3 separate regions of the Homo sapiens genome follow, and regions 1 and 2 are each reported to be linked to region 3. Evidence: microRNA targets listed by miRTarBase, many of them from high-throughput screens and not tested one by one. Region 3 holds a microRNA gene; each other region holds the end of a gene's coding sequence.
What was found. The annotated mature microRNA hsa-miR-873-5p reads GCAGGAACUUGUGAGUCUCCU and lies in region 3 at 2,842-2,862, opposite strand. An mRNA with a match to its seed (bases 2 to 7 or 8) in the 3' UTR can be bound and repressed. Matches are read on the target gene's strand: a 7mer-m8 pairs with bases 2 to 8, a 7mer-A1 pairs with bases 2 to 7 and ends in A, and an 8mer does both.

Region 1: the mRNA of FTSJ3 is a reported target of hsa-miR-873-5p. Seed matches in the 3' UTR shown: 7mer-A1 at 1,072-1,078.
Region 2: the mRNA of CTTNBP2NL is a reported target of hsa-miR-873-5p. The part of its 3' UTR that is shown has no 7-base or 8-base seed match.

The regions. Positions count from the first base shown.
Region 1 is chr17:63,816,302-63,820,530 of GRCh38, reverse strand. It overlaps FTSJ3 (FtsJ RNA 2'-O-methyltransferase 3), which reads left to right. Exons shown (of 21, transcript NM_017647.4): 19 at 93-276; 20 at 358-452; 21 at 537-1,098. The coding sequence ends at 729. DDX42 (DEAD-box helicase 42) reads right to left here. Exons shown (of 18, transcript NM_203499.3): 17 at 3,565-3,663; 18 at 1,214-2,837. The coding sequence ends at 2,133. Among named protein-coding and RNA genes, the nearest start is that of PSMC5, 9.0 kb to the left of the region's middle. RefSeq lists an enhancer at 1-706.
Region 2 is chr1:112,457,194-112,461,422 of GRCh38, reverse strand. CTTNBP2NL (CTTNBP2 N-terminal like) reads right to left here. Exons shown (of 6, transcript NM_018704.3): 6 at 259-4,229. The coding sequence ends at 4,011. Among named protein-coding and RNA genes, the nearest start is that of MIR4256, 2.5 kb to the left of the region's middle.
Region 3 is chr9:28,886,084-28,890,803 of GRCh38, forward strand. MIR873 (microRNA 873) reads right to left here and starts at 2,872; the gene lies at 2,796-2,872. All of the region lies in intron 2 of LINGO2 (leucine rich repeat and Ig domain containing 2), which reads right to left.

The DNA.
Region 1 (4,229 bases), not on the chromosome of region 3:
GGGATTACAGGCGTGAGCCACCGTGCCCAGTCTGGTAATTTCTTTAGAAAGCCTGGAATGTTGGATATTAGACAGATGTCCTTTCCACTCAGGTACACATTTAATGAGGATGAGGGGGAGCTTCCGGAGTGGTTTGTGCAAGAGGAAAAGCAGCACCGGATACGACAGTTGCCTGTTGGTAAGAAGGAGGTGGAGCATTACCGGAAACGCTGGCGGGAAATCAATGCACGTCCCATCAAGAAGGTGGCTGAGGCTAAGGCTAGAAAGAAAAGGAGGGTAAGTGATGGGGCCTCCAGAGATTGGGTGGGGTGGGGGTGGGGGGATGGGGAAGAGGTCACCTGACAGGTTCCTTTGCAGATGCTGAAGAGGCTGGAGCAGACCAGGAAGAAGGCAGAAGCCGTGGTGAACACAGTGGACATCTCAGAACGAGAGAAAGTGGCACAGCTGCGAAGGTAATGGGAGGACACCACAAAGGTACACAGGGCTAAAAGTGCAGCAGAAAGCAAGCCTCTAACCTCTTCTCTTCCCCCCTGTAGTCTCTACAAGAAGGCTGGGCTTGGCAAGGAGAAACGCCATGTCACCTACGTTGTAGCCAAAAAAGGTGTGGGCCGCAAAGTGCGCCGGCCAGCTGGAGTCAGAGGTCATTTCAAGGTGGTGGACTCAAGGATGAAGAAGGACCAAAGAGCACAGCAACGTAAGGAACAAAAGAAAAAACACAAACGGAAGTAAGCAGAGCTGCCAGGCTCCCAGGAGAGCATGGGGACTAGGAGGAAGGGTGTGGCATGGCTCAGTCTGGCCCCCTTGATTACCGGCCTAGCCCCTGCTCACATCACAGCTGTCTGAAGAACAGTGAGGTGGAGTGCCTAGAACTCCCGTGGTGGTCCTGAGCAGAGAGGAGGATGTCCTCCTGCCTGCCTGAAGGTCTCCCATGAAAACACTGCTGAACTGTGTTGACACTCATGACCCTTTTTTTAAACCGTTAAAGGGAAGTTCGGTGTTGGAGCGATACTCAATGTAGTCAGTCTACACCTGGACGTGTGGGCCACTTAAGCCCTCCCCACCCCCATCCTATTCCTGAATAAAACCAGGATAATGGAAGAGTTGTCTTTTCTGACAGTTTTAATAAGCACTTCCCTATCTGTCCCTACACTGTGTGCGGCACTATTCTTAATATGTACCAATTCATAGACAGAAATGACAAACGATCCACAGGTCCCGGTAGTAAAACATTTACTAGAGAGCAAGCAGAAAGGAATGCACATCTTAAAGAAACCTTCACAAAGTCACAAAAGTCAAAGTTTGTATATTTCTTTTCCTTTTTATAAACGATAAACAAAAATCATCAAAATCATTTCAGCAAAAGACTTTTCTATCATTGGGGCAAGTTAAAAAAAATACAATGAGATAGAAGACACTTTAAAAGCTGTTGTTGGGTTTCTTGTTTAATTTTAAATTTAGCAATACCATCTCAAACCTGGAGCAATCCTGGAACAGTTACCAGGATCACCTTTTCCCTTCAATCCTTGTGGCTTCTGGGAATCTTCAGAGCCTGGGTCTGAAAGGTGTTTCCTACATGTCTCAGGGCTGGATGCAAACCTGGCTGGGGACCTGAGCATCAACTCCCATTTAGAATCAGACATCTCCCTTCCCTGCAAATGTCTACAACTACCAAATTGCTCCCCAACAGTTAGCTCAATGGATTGAATTTGCAGAAGCCAACTCCTAAAATGGGGACTGCCTGGCCATACAACTAAGAAAAAGAAGTCAATTTATAGATGCTTATAAGGTGACACCTTAGTAAAAAATATAAGCTACATACAATATAAACCTAGAGTGAGTTTTGTGCCCTAGAAGACCCTTTATCCCAAGATAACCTCAACTTACCCACATGACAACTCACCTAGAGCCAAAAGAAGCTTCCCAGCTCTCACTGCTTCCAAGGACCAAAACAGCTTCCCAAGAAAACATCCGAAAATTCCTTCTGATGAAGGGGTAATGTCTCCAAGCTCCAGCTCTCCACTAAGGGCAGGGGGTCCTTACACTTTGGACCCCAACCCAGCCCTGAGACACCTAGTTACCAAAATCTTTCTAAAAATTAAGGACAACTGATTTCACGCTTTAGCACATCCCCTCTAACTGTCCCATCGACTTTTCTTGCGTTTAGGCGGCTCTGGGACAGCAAAGCCGTCAGCTGTCTTATCTGTCTTGCTGTCCACCTTGTCCATCTTGCTGCTGTCCACTTTGGGTTCCATCTTGGGCTCCATCTTGCTCTCACGATTAAAAGCTTCTTTCCTGCTTTCCCCATTCCGACCATCATTTGCACCCCGGTTCTCCCCATGCCGGCCTGCGCTTCCTCCATGTCTGTTCTCCCCGTGCCGATGGCCATCAGTATGACGGCTGCTGCTTTCTGGATGGCGGTATCCATCTCCATGGCGACCACCATCTCCGTGACGTGGACTATCGCTATGCCGATTGCCAGTCTCTCCGTGACTGTGACGGCTGCTGCCCCGGTTCTCAGTATATCTCTCTCTTTTCCCGTTGCTGCCCCCAGTCCCTTCTCGGCTGTTATTCCCTGAAGCTGTGTTGTTGACTCCTTGGGCTCCGGCAGACGGGTAGGTCACAGGGGCACCACTGATGTTGCCAGTATTGCCAAAGCCTGGGATGCCCTTGGCGGCACTGGTGACGGGGCTGTCAGGACTGTTATGGCCCTGTTGTGCTGAGTTAGTTGGAACAGAATTCAAGCTCCCTGCACTAGTCCACCCACTTGCCCCAGCAGCAGAACTTCCAGCCTTCTGATTACTTAAACTGGCTGCAACAAAGTGACTCTTGTACTGTGACTGAAAGAGAAAGAGACATCAGGAGTAGGTAAGATAGCAAGTTCAAGAAACTTGAATATACAACTTGGCAAATGATGAGGTTTACAGAAACTCTGTGCTATCCTGGCACTGTGAGTTTAGTGTCCTGATGGCCCCACAGTATGGTCCCTTTTGTTCTTGTGCTATAAAGGAAAACTTGTGGATCTCTGTGGAGAGATGGACCCCCAGTGTTCTGAAATGTACTTTTATAGCCTGATTGGCTAGAATAAAGCATCTATGTATTTAGCACATTTATCTGCATTCAAAACCAAAAAGTTCTGAAAACTTAAAAAAAATTTTCATACTGCAATTTAAGTTTGACAGCAAAACCTGCCTTGAACTCATTCTATCGATTCACCTTAGTGTGACTATCAGTAAATTTTGCTTCAGAAGTGAGTTGGAGGTGGGTGCCTGGGAGGTGGGCAACACTTCAGGCTGTTGGGAAGGGAGGGAACACACACCCTGCTGCAGGACAACAATCCCAGGCCCCAAGTGTGACTCAAAGTAGACCAGCACAAGGGGTTCTCTAGATCAACTTGCATTTCCAACTAAGCTACTGTTAGGTTTATATTCAAAATCCAAGCAGCGTGAAGACCCTAAATCTAGCATCAAGCCTAGGCGCCCAGCTACAACCAGGAAAACTAAGCCCCTCTGTCACTGCCCAAGAGTTACTGCTGAAAGTGCTTTTAATGAAATGCTTATTTCAGACCTGGAAAGCTGCTTTCATTGCCGTTAGTCGATCTCCCATAGCTCCTGTGGAAGGCTTGTAGGCCTCATAATTGCTCATTACATTGTTATTTCCTCGATCCTAAAAAAATAAACACATCTATGAGAATGAAAAAATAAGCAGGAAAGCTCACTGCTATAGACTAGGCCTCATTATGAAAACCCTTGAAGTGGGAGCTACAAAGGAACTGGATACTTTTAGAAAGCTGCTACTGCTTTGTGAGAAAAGACACAGTGACAATCATTTAAAAATGCTTATGCCCTCAACCCAGAAATTCTATTTCTGGAAATTAACCCTATTAAACAGAAATGCAATCAGATTATGCCCAAAGTTGATCATGTATTTACATAAACACTTCCAATTAATTAAGTAAAAATTACGTTAAAGATGAAAAGGCCCTGAATAGCATATTGTGTGACTGCTCAGGCCCTGAATCAAGACCATGAAGGGTCTGAATTTCGGCTTGAACACTTGTCACTGTAACCTTAGGTGCCTCAGCATTGTTATCTGTACTAACTTCCATTCAGTTATTTTGAAGATTAACTGAGCCAAAACATCTGATTGCTTGGAATGGTCCTGGCACATATAAAGTGCTCAATAAATATTACCTATTATTATGCATCATCATCATTATTATTATAATGTGG
Region 2 (4,229 bases), not on the chromosome of region 3:
GGTACTCAAGTAGGCACTCTTGACTCTGAATATCACTGACATTCTGCCAAACCAGTTTCAGGAGCTTAAGACATTTCCTTAGGTCAGAGGCAAATAGCAAGTTGTTGTGAAAGAACAGGTAAGGGCTATGAAGGACTGTTTCTCAAAACAGACTAGCTGCATCAGCTAGTCTGAGGATCTAATCTCCAGAAATCTTTATTTTAGCAGGCTTCCCAGGTTATACTTACGCACAGTAAAGTTTGAGAACCACTACTCCAGTCTCCTTTCCCCTCCTTTATTTTTACTAATGAATTGGCCACTGATACACAAATGGTGGGTGGACAGGCTCTCATTTCTCAACTAGTTTTATAGAAATTAAATTAAAAATTATTCCTGTGGAACAATGCTCATTGCCCACTTCTGATTCATTAGGAAAACACATCCTATTTTGAAGCCAGTGTTTTGAAAGACAGTTGAAGTTCCATTTCAAGGACTAAGCATCAGAAGCACTCCTTATGAATTCACACACACACACACATACACACACACACACACAAATTGACAAGGCAGCACTGCTGACAGGCTATTAAGGGAAACCGGATATGCTAGTATTTGTTGAAATGATCATTAATTTGCTTAAATGCTGAAAACTTCAGATATGTAAACATCCACACTATTTGAACATTTTTTAGACATCAAAGGATTTTCAAGTGCTTCTCTCTGGCTTGCATTTGCTAACATTGCAGCAGCAACAGCGCTGGAGTAGTTGAAAAGGGATGCATTAATCATTTGTAAAATGAGAGAGCAGAACAAGATTATGCTTTCTTAAGCAGAAATACATGAGCCATGGATGGCTTCAGGGTCTTTGGATCCTATGAAGCCATCAAACAAATTTTGCATATAGGCATATTCATTTTTCTAGGGATAAACTCCATGGCTTTTCTAAGATTCTCAAAAAGGTCCAGAACCACCAAAAGGTTTAAAAAATCACAGACTGGATTATTGTAAAGGCTTTTTCCAGCTCTAAGACTCTAAAGAAAATCAATGTCTTAGTTCCTTATGGAGTCTAACCTGGATGGGTCATTGACTTCATTTGTTTTGTCAAAGCCACAGTCAAGTGCTCCCTCTACACCACCCCCTCTTCCCAACAAAATATGCCCAAATTGTGCCATTTTTCACTTTGTACAAACAAGACTATTTCCCCCCAAACAGCAAGATTTAACTTGTTTTAATGCAGTCTGCTATAAAAATGAAGACTTCTGCATGGTATATTTGGCTTTACAAACGTTAATGCCTAGTTAATGCTTGTGTTATATGGTACACATCATTACAATCTGTTGGCCAGTAACAGCTTTTGCAACATGGGTTAATACTAAAATTGTGAATCATGGAACTTTTACTTAGCACACACACACACAATCTACAGCAAACTTAAATACTAATCTATAATACCTAACTGGGTTATTGGATCCATTGCAAGATTGTGCTTATTTATCTCAGAAGGTAGGCAACTAGCAAAAATACACATTTCTTTCGCATATCCCCACCCCCATATTACACTGTAAAAGAAATACATTATTCAGTGCACTTCCTAAGAAATAAACTTCCTTATAGTATCTCTCTCTATATATATCTATCCCAAAACAAAGGAAGAGCACAATGCAACTTTTAAGATTACCATTTAAAGCAAAAGAGACAATAACTCTCTGGCACTGTAGCCTCCTCTCCAGTTTAGAAAGTTTAGCTATTTTATCAACACTATTCGTTTTGGCTCTGCATAGGAATAAAGTTCAATGCATGATTGCCTTGGACAGTTTAAGATACCCCCTACATCATTTTGATAGACACCTTGGGGCATTAGTAGCATTTTTATTTTTCATGTATTTGCCTTTATCAAACTATAAGCTGTGGAGTTGCCAATATACTCCATTGTGATTTATACACTGATTTCCATCACCTGCCTTTTTACTATCAACTCTTATTAGATTAAAAGGAAATAGACTTAAATTATAGCAGGAGGTCAGGGCTGCTGGATAGATGTTGGCTCAGAGAATGTATGTGAAGACACCAAGGCCTCTCCTGTATGGACACAAAATCATATAACCACTGTGTCTGAGCTGGGTTGTGGATAGTCTTATTTGGCAGAGGGGGATAGCCATTATATTCTATGAACCTTGCCAGCTGTACTGGCCTACACAGTTGGAAAGTTTGGAGGCTTTTGTCCGCATAGACTTGCTATGATGAAAATGACAGAAGTTTCTAGAATGAAAGAGGTTGCAACTTGGCAGCTTGCAAGCTAAATCCAGCTGCAGACGTGTTTGTTTAACCAGCACCATTTAAACATTTTAAAATCACTTCTTGATATTTAAAAATGAGAATGTTTCTCATGAAAATTTGGATTTCAAAAAATGTGAAGAACTGGTAATCCTGGTTTAGCATTCTTGCACCGCAGCAAGCAGATGGAGCTGAACAGATGCCCTTTTTAAATGCGGCTTGGGCACTTTAGTTTGCCACAGCTCCCACTGCTCCCAGCTGTTTTACATCGCTTGTGTGAGAGGCCTGTTTCACTCATTTATATGACCAGTTGAGTTTTGTGACACTGGGGTTAGTTTAGCTCTGCCTATTTATTTTTTTAATAGAGATGGGGTCTCACTATGTTGATGAGGCTGGTCTTGAACACCTGGTCTCAAGAGATCCTCCCATCTCAGCCTCCCAAAGTGATAAGATTACAGGCATGAGCCACTGTGCCTGGCCAGCTCTGCCTTTTTATGATACTGAAGATCTAGGCTTCATTTGGAATTTCCTCACCTTCCTGTGGACAAAATTCCTCCTTTGATTGTGTCCCAGCCACATCTAGTTGCTTCGGTAGGTAATCTTAATGTGCAGTTCTACTTGTCCTTTATGCTATATTGCAAACTCCAAAGATATAATCACACTAGTATTTATGTGTTTAAGTGTGTGTATGTTAAACATGTAAAGGGGTAATGTATCTATACAGATATATGTATACTTCCCATTTAAGCAAAAGTTAATTTGGTTTTACAGATACAGATACCAGGTTCTGGCAGCTTGGAGAATAAGTGTAACAATTTGGTAAAACTTGTATAATTCTGACTGACCTATAATATTACAGAGTGAATTTCAAGTTATTGCTTTTTGATTACAGAATAAAAAATTCATTCTCTTGCAAAACTTTTATACAGAATGAGTAACCATTTCCTATTCAAGTAACAGCAATCAGAATCAGAAGTTCCTTACACAACAGTAGATGCTTGAGACATTTTTTGAATGGAGATGTGATTTCATTCTGTTCAAGAACTTATGCAGGAAACTGGGAGTGACTTAATTTTTCAAAAGTACAAGAAAATCAGCACCCCAACTGCTTAGTGCTCAGGAGGGTTTCTCAAGGGCTCTATAAAGCTCAGCTTGTGGTGAGTTCACACCCACCTTTAGAAGGATTCCCATTCTACTTATGCAGCCTTGTTTCAGAACACAAAGCTTGTATTAAAACATTAAAAGAGGATTAAAAGCAGTGTTGGTTTTTAACATTCAGAATTCACAGAGGATCTCATTTTCTGTAATTAAATGATCTATTTTGTGTTTTTTGCTGCAGAATCACATTCATATGGCAGTCATATTTCAGGCACTTTTAAAACATGTTCATCTGGAATAAAAATCTGCATGAACCACTTCTGCATAATTCAAAATGAGTGTTGAGTGATTCTAGTTCTCAAATAGATAGCAAATCACCACCTGGTGATTCGCTTTCTTCATCACAACATGACGGTGACTGCTGAGCTTGAGACATCTTTGAGGTGCCTTTCTGGCTTCAGTAAAAAGATGTGAGCCATAAAAATCCAAACTACTCAGTTTCTACTTAAAAAAATACAAAATGGTGAAATATACTAAATGTATTATACAGATGGTTTCAGCTACTATCAAAATAAATAACATAATCTGACTCAGAAGTCTGACTGAGCTTTTGGACGAAATCTGATGGAATGTCAAACGTGGAGACTCCCTCCTAGGGACTAGCTGCTGGTAGGCAAAAGTAACTCAACATCCTTACCATTTGCTACAACAGTATTGGAAGAGCAGCTGCTGGCAAGGTCTTCTGCAGTGGTCAAAGAGGCTGCCTGGGAATGAGTTTTGGTCAATGGAGTGGTAGCAGATGGAGAAGGGGTGAGGCCAGGTTTCTTGGGTGGGATGGGTGGAGGGTTTCCTCTCTCAGCTCTGGGGATGGTTGGGGA
Region 3 (4,720 bases):
AATAACCTAGAATTGCTTTAAATTTCCTAAATTTTCATAAATTAACTAAATCAACGAGTTATGTTTGCTTTCAGTGTACTGACATGCCTTTACTCAAACTCAGAAATGAAATATACAGTGAGAAGGGGAAGAAAATTAATTGCAGAGAAGATAAAACATTGATATATTTGAAAGACATTATTGGCTAACATAATTAGGATAGAAAATGGAGGCTCAAAAAATTGGATCTAAGCTAAAATGGTACTATGAAAAAAATTTTTAAAACAAGCTTTTATGGAAGGTCTAAAATGGTATATTCCTTCTAGAAAGAGTAATTTGAAGAGCCAATTAAGTCATACTAGGCAGTAATCTTTCAGTTAATGGTATTTAATTAAAATGACAGGGCTACTCCTTGGATTTGAGGGTAATGACAAATGAAACTTTAATTAGAGTCTTACCTTCCAGGAAAGAGTATGGGCCACTGGATTTTTGCACAAAATATACCACAGTTACTCACATAATTTCTTTTGTTGCTTATTTCTTTTCTTCCAATTTTAAGTAATATATGTACTGCTTGTTTGTTTTTGATTTCCCGCTTTTACAGGTGAAAGTCTGTTTTTCTCTCTATGTAATTTCCCATAATTTATTCTAATGAGGCTAGCTAGTGTCATCTACAGAATCCTAGAATGAATTCAATACTAAACTAAAACTTTGCTTTTATGAGATAACATGCAATTGTGAGACACATTTAGGAGTTTCCACTTAGGCAACTTGAGATAAACTGAATATAATACATTCAAACAGAACATTAAATGAGAGAGAAATAATATAGAAATAGTAGTTAGAGCTTCGTCAAGTTAATATTAGAGATGCAGGCTTTTAAACTGAAGTGGATCTAACATATTTTAGATATTTAAGAAATGTTCCCCAGTGGGTTGACCACATTTCATTGCTTAAGGTAATGCAGAGCAGGGTATGAACAAGAAAGCCTAATGTATGATTTCCAACGAGTGAGGCAGGACCTTGTACATATAATGCTGTGTCCATTATAATAATGATGAACAAAGAGCTATACAAACACGCTTGTCAGTTTCTAACCCCAGACTCTGGCAGAACAGTTGAAAATAGATGCTCAATAGAGATGTCTGCTGAGTTGATGCTGACATATAAGTTCCATGTTATTGATCTACATGTGGGAAAAAAATTGAAAGGATTTTTTTTTCTCTAGTTATTGAAAGTCAAGGGTCAGATGAGCTCCTTGAATGAGGCCTATTGTTCTAACTTGCCCCTGGTCTTAAAAAAACTGTTGGCATTAGGATGAACTATACATTCCAGAAAAGTGATTCTCAACTCTCTCCTGATTGTACCTGATGACATGTTGCAGAAGCCAGTAATTTGTTACTAATATTAAAGAGTAATGTTAGTGGATGATTTGCTTTTATTAAAAAAAAAGAAGGGCATGTTCAGGGTGACATATATGCCACCTTATTGCATTCTAGTAAGATAAGCTTTTCAGAGGAGACATCACAACAAGCTACTGGAAATAAAATACAGCCAACACATTGTTTTATCTCAGCCACATCCAGCAGTGTGATCACACAGACACAAGGATCATGGGTTTAGATGTGGGGCAAAAAGACAAACAAAAAGGCTGAGAACTGTAATCCTAGATTGTGAAAGAGAAACAGAAAGGTCTACTGACCAGTGATTGACGATACTTCTGTCTGAAAACATGCTTTCAATCGATTTAATATTTTTCCATATTTATGCCAGGATAATTAAAATCAATTGAAGAAATCCTACAGAAATAAGCTCCAACTGGATTTAATTTGCAAAAAATTTAAAGGCTGCACATTGTTTTAGAAAAAAGACAGGTCAAAATGAAGGTAAGATTTGTATTACCAGCTTACATGTAAGAACTTCATTGAATGTTTTGAAGATAACATTTTGAGGAATGTAGAAAAACACTGAGAGGAACTTTATCACTAATTATTATAGAATATTTAACACAAATATAACCTTTAGATATGATTCATTTTTCTAAGTGAATTTGAAAGTATTTAGGTATGACTATGAGTAGAGTCTCTGCTACTCACTAATGTAGGATACACATCATCAACTTCATACATTTACTATATTCCTCCTTCAGTAATTGAATTTGTCACTCTTGTTAAAAGAAGACCATAAACAGATTATAAAGGATCAACCTTATGTGGTTTCATGAAAGGCTGCTTTATGAGATTTAACAACAGATTCATGCTATCAATGCTGATGCTAAATGTGGTCCATTGAACAATCCTGAAATATAAAAAGACTAATTACATAAGTTGATGTTACACATGAACATGAACAGAGAAAATATTTTCTCAGAAAAAAATTAGATAACAATCTCAACATTTATATACTTAAACTCCTGATTAGATACAACCAAGAAAAAAAGTTTAAGGGAATACATATGATTTTTAATTTTTTCCTTTCCTGCAAGGTCTATAAATTATCTTTCACATAAGCACTGGCACCATTCATTTCATTGAATAATTTATGTCTTGTAGAATGTCTGCTGAGTTTACAAAGATAAGATCAGGACTATTAGAGATGCTTCCCTTGGTGGGATTCAACACCTCAAGTAAACCTACTGACATCCATGTTGAGTGGACAAGTTAACCCTTGCCTAACTGAATTATTTTGCATTTTCAACATTACTTCCTTGTTTAGAACTTAAACTTATACTCAGAACTTGGAGGAACTGACAACAGTGGAAGGTACCAGCCATAAAATGTTGTCCATTGCAAAGCAGTAGAAATGAGTAGGAAGATTTGTGGGTGTTCCCGGGAACTCATCAGTCTCCTGTTCATTTTCAATAGGAGACTCACAAGTTCCTGCAAATGCACACAAACTTATTCTAAGCAGGAACCATTTGCAGATAAGCAGCTGTTCATATTTCCTCCATTTCAAGTGAATACAGTAATCTGTTCCCCTGGAGTATCTTCAGCAGCTTGCCTGGTGCTTGTGATTCTTTTCAAACAGTTTTGTGGGCATCCCAGACACTGGTCACCTTCATTTATGTATTCAATAAATATTGATTGAGCATCCCTTAAGCAGGTCACTGTTCTTGTTTTAAAGATAGAGTGATAAATAATTTCTTGCCTTTAGGGCAATTCTATCAAACATTAGTCCAGTTCACTTTCAATAATGCCTGAGTCAAAGTATCAGTCTCCAATGCCAAATGAGAGGCAGTGGTATTTAAATTTGTACTTCCTGGTGCAATGGGAAGAATCTAGCAAAGGGAACTACGAGATCAGAATTCTAGCCCTACTGCAGCTAAGACATAGCAGTATTTCCATGTCACACCATTTAACATGTTTTTTGCTTCAGTTTTTTTTTTAATTTTAAAAATTATTATTTGGGCTATTTTACTTTTCATTCTGGATATAAATGTGTGATGATGATATAATAACTGGAAACAAAGAATGGAAGTGTTTATACATAAATATAATGTTATTGAAGTTGTCTTTTTCTATTAAAAAACCTTTGTTTCAGCAATTACTGTAAATTTTAAATGTATTATTAATAACTGGAATCTTTTCTACCAGCCAACACATAAATTATTTTTCTCATATAAAAACAAATGGTTAATTTGCCCATTTAATGGCTCCTAACATTGAAACTTATTTTTATCAGCTTTAATGTCTCCATTAGATCTCAGACTCTAGCTCTAACGTTCTAAGAAGACAGGCTCAGTTCTTGACCAGGAAGGTGGTAATCATCAAGGTAAATATTTTTCCAAGACCAGGTGTTAGTCTTTGCAGTTTTTCTGAAATTTTAAGCTCTAGAAAATTTTGCCTATGTTAGTTTGTTCAAATGAAAAAAATAAATATTCCACTATCTCTTCTCCCCATAAAAAGCATGTGTATAGGCAATTATGCCTGTTCACACACAGGGTCTCTGTCCATAAAGGTTCCCAGCTGGTAAAATTTCATGCACTCATGCTTGGTACAGAATAGCATATAGATCCATTTATTTTACTACCATATGCCCTTGTAAGAGGCAGTATGTAAATACTTTATTGAAGAGGTTTAATTTTTAAGTCCTATCTAGGAATTGGCAGAAATTAACTACAGGTTTTCTTGGTTTTTTGTTTTGTTTTGTTTTGTTTTGTTTTGTTTTTGTGGGGCAAAAGAAGGGGTTTTGATCTCAGTAGACTTTCCTGTCCCTGGAGCTTGGATTTCTGTTTCTGTCTCACTGTTAAAGGACTGAGACCATATCTCCATATAATTAGGTTGTGCAGGTAAGCAGTTACTGTCTTTTCCTAAATGGGTACACACTTGTGTACCAGGGGCAGCACTGCCATGGAGACCTGATCAAAGGGGCCTGCCTGGTATTTAATGAGGTGGAAGAAGAATGCCACAATGAATACAGCCTCAACTACTCTGAATTATGAGGTTTATGTGGTTGAGTGTAGAAGTTTCTCCAAATGGACCCAGAGTCAGTTACTTGTATGGCAGAGGAGTTTGGAGGACAATGGGACATTCTCTCTTTAATCTCTACTAGGGCTGGGGAAGGAAGTAGACCCCACTGAATAACCTCCTCATTATGTGGCTATATTAAAATTGTTGAATATCTATTTATGTAAATCATATGCTATAAAGGTTATTTGCTGTTAAAGTCTCCAATTAAAATTCCAATTGACAGTCAAGAATCCTTGAAATAGCCTAATCAAATAAGAGTAGATCACCACTTT